Linked DNA regions of Homo sapiens: region 2 is linked to region 1. Evidence: fine-mapped expression QTL. A gene starts in region 1. The other region holds a variant in brackets. All regions are shown on one strand. Distances are between the middles of the regions.

What was found. PIP is the estimated chance that this variant, and not a neighbour inherited with it, causes the effect.
Region 2: its variant is fine-mapped to the expression of TMEM63A in whole blood (INTERVAL, PIP 0.95).

What each region holds. Positions count from the first base shown.
Region 1 is chr1:225,879,394-225,884,758 of GRCh38, forward strand. TMEM63A (transmembrane protein 63A) reads right to left here and starts at 2,987. Exons shown (of 25, transcript NM_014698.3): 1 at 2,911-2,987; 2 at 1-17. RefSeq lists enhancers at 593-1,543, 3,746-3,795, 3,856-3,905 and silencers at 2,396-2,515, 3,076-3,235.
Region 2 is chr1:225,904,314-225,909,678 of GRCh38, forward strand. No RefSeq gene overlaps it. Among named protein-coding and RNA genes, the nearest start is that of MIR6741, 15 kb to the right of the region's middle. RefSeq lists an enhancer at 2,123-2,896. The variant G/A (reference allele first, on the strand shown) is at 2,149.

The DNA.
Region 1 (5,365 bases):
CCAAACTGTAGACTTTCCTGAAGGATCACAGACACCAAGCATCACATGGGAGCCACCCTTTTCCAGTGTAGGGGTCTGGATGGAAACCCTCCAGCACACACCTGTGTATGCATGCTGCCCATATGGACCTTTAGGTTCTGCCCAGTGGGCTCCCTCCTGCCTTGATCTCTCCCCAAACTCCCAGAACTGGTTCTCCATCCATCAGTGCTCCTCTGTGCGACCCTACTCCTCCTTCCTCGGCCAGCACCACCTGTGGCCCCAGCCTCTCTCCTCTTTGCCAATGGCTCAGGGACCTGCTGGGTCTAGGGGAGCAGCCCTCTCCCACAGAAACCCTGGAGGTTGTGGGCTCACGGTAGGGCCCCAAGCAAAGGACTTCACCTGGGCCCCAAGGGCCAATGCTACTGGGGAGGCTCCCCAGGGTTCCCCAAGAGCTAGAATCAGGAAAAGGGAACACAGCAGCATGAACAAGGAAGGCTTGAAATGTGAAGTGGAAAGAAAAAACATCCCCATAAAATGCTCACAGAGAGAGCATTGTCCCTGGAAAGGGGAGGGTGCTGTGGTGGTGCTGGGAGTGGCATACCCTCGCCAGTGCTGCAGAGGAGAGAGGCCTCTGCGGAGGGAAACACCTGCGGCTCCTCTTCCCCCTCCCTCCAGCCCCAGTCATGCCTCTAAGTTACTTGTCTCTTGCCAAATAGGCTTCCCAGGGTGGTTTGACAAAGTTTGATATGAACTCAGGGAGGTGGCTAGCAAATACTATCAGCCTGAGACGGAGGTAAGGTCAGGTGGCCAGTCCTGTCTGCCCTCTCCGATGAGCACCCAGGTTAGGGTAGAGCTCTGGGGACCCACAATCTCTCTCAGACCTTTCAGCTCAGTCCCAGCCTGTCCCTGCCCATTAGACACATAAAGTCCAGATCCCCCTGAAACAGCTCCGTCCCTCTGGCTCTCCATGGGACAGCTCCTCTGCATTTTCACAAACAGGCACGCTCTGAGCAGGCAGCTGGGAACACAGACACCATGGGACAGTGCTGCCAGGCTGAGGAGAAGGCAGGGGGAGGGGAGCACCCAGCTGGCAGCTGTATAGAGGAGGCCAAACCAGCAGCTAGGCACTGTGGTTGAAGTGGCACTGCCTGGCTGAGAACCCCTGGCAATATTCAGTCATCCTAGATGTATGTGAATGCCTAGCACTTACCTGTGCCTTCCAGAAATTCTCCATTCATCCCCTTATTCCTACTCAATATGCCGAGGGTAGGAAAGCCAAGAATTACTGCTGAGGCCCAAGAGCCAGAGTGGGCAGCAGGTGACTTCACGCTCCCAACCCAAAGTTCAACCCATGTGCAGGCAAGCGTCTGATTGTGGCCAGTGGGAGAGGGCTAAATCCAACAGCTGGTCTAAATTTGCCAAAGTAAACTACCTATGCTAATCCACTGCCAGTCTCCATTGGCAGCAAGGACTGGCCTGGTGGTCAACTTGACAAGCTCTAGAAATACCAGCAGAATGTTGCAGGAAGTATATGGATATTGTTCGTTCTTGCAAGAAGGCCCGTACAAATTCAGGGTAATTTTATCATCACCAAATCTTTCAATCCTGTGATGACAATAGCGAAACTACAAGCAGCTCCAGGCCTTCTGCCTCAGGAGCTAACTCTGGTCTTTCAGATGCAGAATAAGGTTGCAAAGTAAAGTACAAACTTCTCCTTATGGCAACACCAAACAGGACCCAGTAACCTGGACAACTGTTTACCTCCTACCCTGGAGCACAAAGGAAATGACACAGCCCCTGGCTGAAACCAGAGGCAGTGTGGCTCAGGGATTATGTGAGCAGGCTCTGGAGTTAGGGTCTCAGCACCACGCAGTTCAGACAAGCAGCCTAACCACTCTGTGCCTTGGCTTCCTTCGCCAGGAAATGCGAGTGATGACTTTCTCTCACGGAGCTGTTGGGAGGCACAGATCCCAAACAACACCTGTAAAGCACTTAGCCCAGGACCCGGCCCTAGCAAGCAATTAGAAGCTGTCTGCCTTTATTTTAAGTCGCCCCTCCAGCTAATGGGAAACACAAGGGCAGGATCCCACCTGACGTCTTCTCTGTTAGAGCCCAACGAACAGCTAGGAGAGACCTTTGCCCCCACACTAAACAAAGGAGAGGGGCGTGTGAAGGGAAAAGGAGCCTCGGCTTCCGTTCATATCCCCCTTGAAGGCACAGCAGACTTGAGGATGACCTGAGAGGTGTCAAGGGAGGGTCAGTGGGTCCGCCACGCTGTCCACCCCTGCCCTTGAAGAGGACACCACCTGCCTGGGGCTGAATGACCAAGGCCCCTCCAGGGCCTCAGGTAGCTAGTCTTATCAGGTGCTGGAACCTTTGCGGATTTGGTTTCTTAGCAGAGCTCGCCTCACCCTTTCCGCCCCCGCCCTTCCCCCCAGTCCCCGAGTCCCCAGCCTCCCTCCTCAGGACTCCGCCAAGGCTGCAGGAAGTGGTCACCCAGGAACAGCCCGAGGGGTGGCCTCTGCCTTCCTGGCGTCAGGAGAGTCGGACGCTTGGCCCTTTCCCAGCCCGGCCTCGTATAGGGTCCGAGGAGCCCATAGCTGCACTCCTAGTTAGGTGGGAGGTCGGACTCCGCCGACAAATCCCAAAGAGAGGGGTGGGGAAGAAGGAGATACCAGCCCTGAAAGCGAAAAGCCGGAGAGGAAAGTCCTGAAAAGCCGCCAGGAATTCCCAAGGAGCGCAGGGCTGGAATGGAGGCGCTGCCCGGACCCTCTCCTCCCACCCAATCCCGCGTCGTCACCCCCTGCTTGGGGTCGGGGGCTCTGGGGTCTGCGTAGGCTGGGAGCCGTTCCGGAACCGGACACCTGGCGCGCACGTCCCGGGAAAGGCGGAGGGTGCATTGCCCCTCCTCACGCCCCCTGTCCCCTGTACCTGCGGCGGCGGCGTGTCTGGCGGGACCCAGCAGCGCGGGGCGTGTTCCGACCACTTAAAAGTTACAAAGTGAAACTCCGGCGCCTCCTGCACATGCGCAGAGCTGCGGCCACCCCTTTCCCAATTTGGAGTCTTGGCCCGCGGCGGCGCAAGCCTGTACGCAGCTGACTGCGCCTCCCGCGGTGGCCCTCGGCGGTCCTCTGCCCCGGCCTGGCCTCCTGGTCGCCGCTCAGCCCCGCAGCTCCTCCCGGAGGTCTGCAAGCCCCGGACCGGCCAGCTCACGTCCAGGCTCCAAGAAGGGATCCGCCGGGGCGCACCCTCTTCCGTCCCCCGGCACGAGCCCAGTCTCTGGACGCCTCCGGGAGAACTGGGCCAAGCACAGGGTGGTCGCGGCGCAGGGAGAGCATCTGCAAACGTTGGTCCCTGTAGTGCTTTGAATTTCCCCGAAGAGCTCTTAGACCCGCCCCGGGAGAGTGGGGTTGCGGGGGTGGTAGCATGGGGAGCTCAGCAGGATTCAGCCCGCACCTCGGCTCCGGGTAGTCGGGAACCGCGCGGAGCGCCCTGCAAGAGGCCACGGCTCCCCCGCCGCTGTAGAAGGCCGGACCGTGAAAGCCCGGAGGGTCTCCGTTCGGGCAAAAATGTGGGGGCGGGTCGCAGCATTTCCAACGCCCCCTGGGGCTAGTCCATTACTGCTCGAGCCAGGGCCGCCAAGGGCACCTACTCCAGCCCAGGTCCGAGAGCGCGGCATGCCTCCCGGCCGGGAGCCAAATGTTTCCAGGGAGCCGGTGGCCTCCACAACCGGACCGCAAGCTCGCGAGGGCAGGGCCGGCCCGCCGCGCCAGGGACTGCTGGGCGCTGCGCGGGAAGCGAGGCTGGGTTCGGGGAGGACCGCGCGCCCTGGGAATCAAGGAGCAAACCAACCCGTCCGCAGGCCCCTGTTTCCCTATCTGTGAAATGAGTGGTTGGACCAAAGCTTCCTCTCAGGTCCCTTCCAGCACCCCTCTCTGAGCTCTGAGCAGTCCTCACCCCACATGCATGCCTTTGCAGGTTCTCCGACCTCCCTTCCATTTCTGAGCTTTCATCTTTTTCTGTAACGGCATAAAAATATCCTCCTTATGGCCGGGCGCGGTGGCTCATGCCTGTAATACCAGCACTTTGGGAGGCCGAGGTGGGCGGATCACCTTAGGTCTGGAGTTCGAGACCAGCCTGACCCGCATGGAGAAACCCCGTCTCTACTAAAAATACAAAATTAGCCGGGTGTGGTGGCACATGCCTGTAATCCCAGCTACTAGGGAGTCTGAGGCAGGAGAATCGCTTGAACCTGGGAGGCGGAGGTTGCGGTGAGCTGAGATTTCACCATTGAACTCCAGCCTGGGCAACAAGAGCGAAACTCTGTCTCAAAAAAAAAAAAAAAAAAAAAAAAATTCCTCCTTACCTCCCTGTCCCTGATTCTAGCGCCAGTCTGTGGCTGTCCAGGAGTGGGGTGGGGAGGGTCTCTTCCTGCCTCTCTCAGTTCTTTTCTGTCCCATCTGTCTTTCCCCTTCTCTCCCCAAAGCTCTAGCCACTAGTTATTTTCCAGGGTTTTTCCTCTATGCCCCCCGCCAGTATCATCTCTGCCCTTGTCCCTCCATAGCTGCGCCTGGCCATCCCCCCTCCCTGCTCTCTTACCTCCACATCTGACGGTCTGCAGAGTCCTGGGTGTGGCCCCTGGACTCCCCGTTGGCTCCTTAGACTGTCCCTGTCCAATCTTTCTTCCACTCCCCACTCCCGCACCTGCCTGTCCTCCTTCCTTCCTCAATGAATGGTGCCCCCACCTGTCTGGTCTGTGCCATGGGTCCAGGCAAGTGCAAGGTTCCGGTCTTGGTAATTAGAATGCTGGAGCCACTGACAAAGATTTCAGAGAGAGAAAGGATTTCTAAATTTGTTCTTGAGTAGGTTAAGGTTATTTCAAAATCAAGAGAAGGCCTTGATGGATCGATATGTGAGTTGAGATAGCCACAGCCTTTGTTATGTCAGTTGTGTGAAGTGCTTGTAAAATCACTATTTTATTTTTTAATTTTTAATTAATTATTTACTTATTGAGACACAGTCTCACTCTGTCGCCCAGGCTGTAGTACAGTGGTGTGATCTCAGCTCACTGCAACCTCCACCTCCTGGCTTCAAGCGATTCTCCTGCCTCAGCCTCCCAAGTAGCTGGGATTATAGGCATGTGCCACCACACCCGGCTAATTTTGTACTTTTAGTAGAGACGGGGTTTCTCTATGTTGGTCAGGCTGGTCTCAAACTCCCAACCTCAGGTGATCCTCAGGATTATAGACGTGAGCCACCGCGCCCAGCTGCACAGCTCTTACAGCTATAAATTCCAGATCCTCTGAAGCTTTATTTTCTTCTCTAAGTATAGATGATAATTTTGATCACAGATTTTATTTTGATGCAAGTAGGATTGGAATAAAGC
Region 2 (5,365 bases), 25 kb after region 1:
GGGTGCTTGGGACTTCTCTCTGGATTAACCCCCATTGGTGCTAAATGCTGCCAGGCCTCTGCCAAGGAAGGTCTCCCAGGACTGAGAAGGGTAATCAGTTTCCCAACCAGAAGTCAGCTGTCCAGAGCCCTCTGAGCCCCAGGCCCATGCCTGCAGGCCGGATTGTTTCTCAGTCAGCAATCCTTGGTGTGGACTGGGAAGTTTCTGTGCCATCCAAGGCTCAGCTCTGGCAAGGAACAGGATTCAGAGTCCACACAGAACACCAGTTAGTTCTCCCCTCTTGGGCTGACCAGCATCTGCCGGCTGTGTCTTAATAAGAAGTGGGCTCCACTCCATCTCCTTCTCTGGAAATAAGCTATTATTTATTTATTTATTTATTTATTCATTCATTTATTTAGAGATGGAGTCTTGCTCTGTTGCCCAGGCTGGAGTGCAGTGGTGCAATCTGGGCTCACTGCAACATCCGCCTCCTGTGTTCAAGGGATTCTCCTGCCTCAGCCTCCCGAGTACCTGGGACTACAAGCGCCCACCACCATGCCCAGCTAATTTTTGTATTTTTAGTAGAGACGGGGTTTCACCATGTTGGCCAAGCTGGTCTTGAACTCCTGGCCTCAAGTGATCCACCCGCCTCAGCCCTGTAAAGTGCTAGGATTACAGGCGTGAGCCACCGCGCCTGGCTAGCTTTTAAGGGTTGGTTTCCCTAGACCCAGGGTGGAGGGCTCTGGCCACCCAGGAATTCCCAGAGCATCTTCTGACAGGAAGGCACCTAGTGCATTGTTCATGGACCTTCCTGTGAGGGGGCAGCACCAGTGGCCTGTCCTCCTCAGCCCAGTGACAGCAGGTCCTTGCTGAAACCAGCCCATGCTTCCAGCTCCAGGGAGCTCCCAGCGAGTCCAGATGTTGGGAGGTTGGGGAGGAGCACAGCTTGCAGTGTCAGACCAGGGAGACCCCTGGGGTGGAGTCTGGAGACCTGGATTTGGCAGGGCTTTGTCACCGACTCATAACCAAGACATTCTGCACCTTGGGTCTGAGGAACAGAGATCCTACAATTTCAAAAACAGTAAATGTCTCCAACCTTTCAGAGCAAGAAAGCTGCACAGTGTAACTGAGAAGGGAGGTGGATCAAGCTATTTGGGGGAAGCTAGGAAGAGGGTCCTTCCTCGCCCTGAGTCAAGGCCCATCCTTCTGGTCCCAGGGCCAGACCTTGCACTTGCCTGGACCCATGGCATAGATCAGGCAGGGTGGAGGGGGCACCATTCATTGAGGCAGGGAAGGGAGGACAGGCAGGTGCGGGAGTGGGGAGTGGAAAGAAGATTGGACAGGGACAGTCTGAAGAACTGATGGGAAGTCCAGGGGCCACATCCAGGACTCTGCAGAAGGTCAGATGTGGGGTCTTTGGCAGGAGGTAAGAGAGCAGGGAGAGTAGATGGCCAGGCACAGCTACAGAGGTACAAGAGCAGAGATGATACTGAGGGGAGCACAGAGGAAAAACTCTGGGAAATAACTAGTGGCTAGAGGTTTGGGGAGAGAAGGGGAAAGCCAGAGGGGACAGAAAAGAACTGAGAGAGGCAGGAAGAGACCCTCCCCACCCCACCCCTGGACAGCCACAGACTGGCGCTAGAATCAGGGACAGGGAGGTAAGGAGGATATTTTTATGCCGTTACAGAAAAAGATGAAAGCTCAGAAATGGAAGAGAGGTCGGAAAATTTGCAAAGCCACGCATGTGGGGTGAGGACTGCTCAGAGATCAGAGAGGCTTGGTGCTGGAAGGGACCTGAGAGGAAGCTTTGGTCCAACCGCTCATTTTAAAGAGAGAGAAACTGGGGCCTGCGGAGGTCACCCCACTGTAGATGGTGAGCCAGCCTGGAGTCAAGCATCTATAGGTTAGAGGATCTAACCATATCTCCAAGGTCCAGGCCTCATGGTGCCCCTGGAGCCCCTTGTTCTCCTTTGGGAGAACAAAAATCAAATTAAAAAGCTGATTATTTTCTGGCTCAGCCTGAGAGGCTCTGCTACCTTGGTTCTGTAATTAAAAATGAAATAATACATAAAGCGAAGGAGAGAGCTGGTCCCCAGGGCTGCCGTGGGACCAGCCCTCATTTTCCCACATAAGGCTTCAGCTTCCTGCCCTGGGTCTCCAAAAGCAGAC[G/A]GTGATATGGGGGACAGGTTGAAGGCTGGCCACATCAACTTTCAGGCCAGGAAAGCCCCACCTCAGATCAAAGCCAAGGCTGCTGTGCCCCTGGGAGGGAGCATTATGTGAGCCTGTTTGTGGGTCAGCATTGACAGGGCAGGCCTGGGGAGGCCTGTGTGACTTGAGCATGAGCTGAGGGAGGCTGCAAGGGGATTGGACATGGCACAGGGCAGTGAGCTGTGTGGCCTTGGGCAGCCCATGACCCTCGCTGGACAACGGGGAATTTGACCTGCACCACGTTCGTGTCCCTCCAGGGTCTCTGGATCTAGACTAGGGCTGTTTCCGCTAATTAGGAATCATCTCGGGTGTGTGTTTTATTTCCACTTTCCATGTTTACTGTTGGTGTTTCCATAAGAAGTTTCCAAGATGTGTTAGTTTGGTGTCAAATAAAACAGAAGCATCCTATGGTGTGTGTGTGTGCGTGTGTGTGTGTGCACATGCGTGTGGGAGCATGTGTGGGTGTGTCCATGTGTAAGTGTGAGGCTGTGACTGTGGCAGTGTGTATGATCCCTTCCCGGACCACGAGCTGACTGAGGGCAGCACCGAGGCCAAGGCTGGCTCTGTGGCTGCCCCATGCCCACGGAGTAGGCTCCTGAGGGTCCTGTGACATGGTTTTGGATTTTGTTAATGAAAGATGCTGGTCCCTGGGAAGGTTTGATCCTCCTGCTTGGTACCTGGAAGCCCCCAGAATGTGTCCAACAACAGAGTTCAGCCTTTTCCTATCTTACAGCCCAAGGTCCTTTGGCCACCAGATGGGAGCCGCCACAGGCCGATTCCAGACAGGCGGCAAGGAGAAGGAAAAGAACAAAGCTGGCCCCTTCAGAGGTGGGCAAGATGAGGAGTGCTCACAGTGGTTCACAGTGGGGGTTGAACTGGGGCTCTGGGTCCTGTGGCCAGGGGTTCAGGGGTGGTCGTGACCGCCTTTGTTCCAGGTGTGGCCTGGGCCTGAAGCAGACTCTGTGTGAGGAGTGGGAGGGCTCCCTGAGGAAATGGCTCCCCTGCAGCCTGGATTTCCAGCTGCTCAGCCCAGCAGGGAAGGGGTCAGTGCGGCCTGAGCCCTGCACACCACAGCTCTGGGGAGCGGCCTGTATTCTCCATGATGAAGACACCACAGCCCTGGCTGGGGATGACCAGCGGGGCCTCCACAGCCACACTGACCTTCGTCTGAAGTAGGTCTGCCTGACGGGTGCATTTGCCATGCAGCCTCATTCTTCTCCTGAGCATCCTCCTATCCAGGGGTCTGGGTTCAGGAACGTGGCCCTCCTCACCCTGCCCCTCTCACCCAGGCCAGCTGGAGGCTCCACTCCACCCTTGTGCTGAAATCCTCCCCCTGCTTCCCCAGGCCCTCTGTCTCCTTCTTCTCCCTCATCCCTTGACTCTTCATGATCTCCAGGCTGCTTGACATGGGCTGAATTGTGGACCCCCAAAATTCATATGCTTAAACTCTAACCCTCAGTACCTCTGAATGTGTCTATTTGGACATAGGGCCTTTAAAGAGAAAATTAAGTTAGATGAGGTCACTAGGATGGACTCTAATCCAGTATGACTGGTGTCCCTGGTCTTGAACTTCTAGCCTCCAGAACTGTGAGAAAATAAATTTCTTTTTCTTTTATTTTTTGTAGAGATGGGGTCTTGCTGTATTGCCCTGGCTGGTCTCAAACTCCTGTCCTCAAACAATCCTCCCACCTTGGCCTCCCTCCCAAAGCACTGGGATTACAGGCATAAGCCACCATACCTGGCTTTCTTTGGTAGAGACAGGGGTCTCACCATGTTGCCCAGGCTTGTCTAGAACTCCTGGCCTCAAACAATTCTCCTACCTCAGCCTCCTGAGTAGCTGGGATTATAGGCATGAGCCACCACCGTGCCAAGGTTGACAAACACATTTCTGTTGCTTAAGCGACCCAGGCCTGGTCATTACAGTTTTGCTGTAGCAGCCCAGGAATGTGATGTGCCACTCTGCCTACACTGATGTGGACTCAGCTCCAAGTCCACAGTCACAGTGCCAGGTTGCAAACCCACATCTGTGCCTCCAGATTCTTCTGAGGCCCTGCCTCTTTCCCTACGGTCTGAAAATGGGGGGCCCACCTCCCCTTAAAGAGGAACTCCCGATGGCAATGGGGTTCAGCGCAGGCTCCAGCCATGCTGCTCATCTCATCTCGGCCCTGGGCAACCCCAATGAGCCTCATTTTTCTCATTTGTGAAAACGGGCGTCAGATAGAAACACGCACTGGATAGGGTTGTTTGTGGGGACTGGGGAAGGTTGGGGAAGTCCAGCTCCAGCTTTGACCTGTATCTGGCACTCCATGAACGCAGCTTTTATTTTTATTATTCCTCTCAAACCTATCCCCTTCCAGGATTTTCCAGGTCAGTTAATGGTGTCACCAAGCAGAAGCCTTGGCCTGGCTTCCACACCTGCTTCTCTCTCACCTGCCCTCATCTCATGGCTCAACAATCCTCATTAAATACCTGCTAAACAATAGCCATTGTGCTCTGCACTGAGCAAACAACAGGAACCCTGTAGACGGTGGAGGTTTTAGCTTATCTGTGCATTAAACAAATTGAATTTTAAACAAGCAATTGATATTAGGGGGATACACTGGGGGAAGCCAAGGCTCTTTAAGCCTTGTGGATTACCCTCTTCAACTGGCTTCCCTCATCTTTTATACCCAAATGGCTGCAAGACTCAAGGCACTGTTTTCCAACATTTCTGGAGTTTTCTTTCTTAAGCAAAAATTAGGGCTGATCCCTCCCTACTTAAAAACCTCTTAGGCTGGGCACGGTGGCTTATGCCTGTAATCCCACCACTTTGGGAAGCCGAGGCAGGCGGATCATCTGAGGTCAGGAGTTCGAGACCAGCCTGGCTAACATGGTGAAACCCCATTTCTACTAAAAATACAAAAATTAGCCAGGCGTGGTAGCACACACCTGTGGTCCCAGCTACTCAGGAGGCTGAGGCAGGAGAATCGCTTGAACCCAGGAAGCAGAGGTTGCAGTGAGCTGAGATCACACCACTACACTCCAGCCTGGGCAACAGAGCAAGACTTTCTCAAACAAAACAAAACAAAACAAAACAAAACAAAACAAAACAAAACAAATTAACCTCTTGCTGCCTCAGCTGCCTTCCACTGTGCCAAGTCCAGCATCTTCATTGTTCAGACTCACCTGTTGTCCAGTC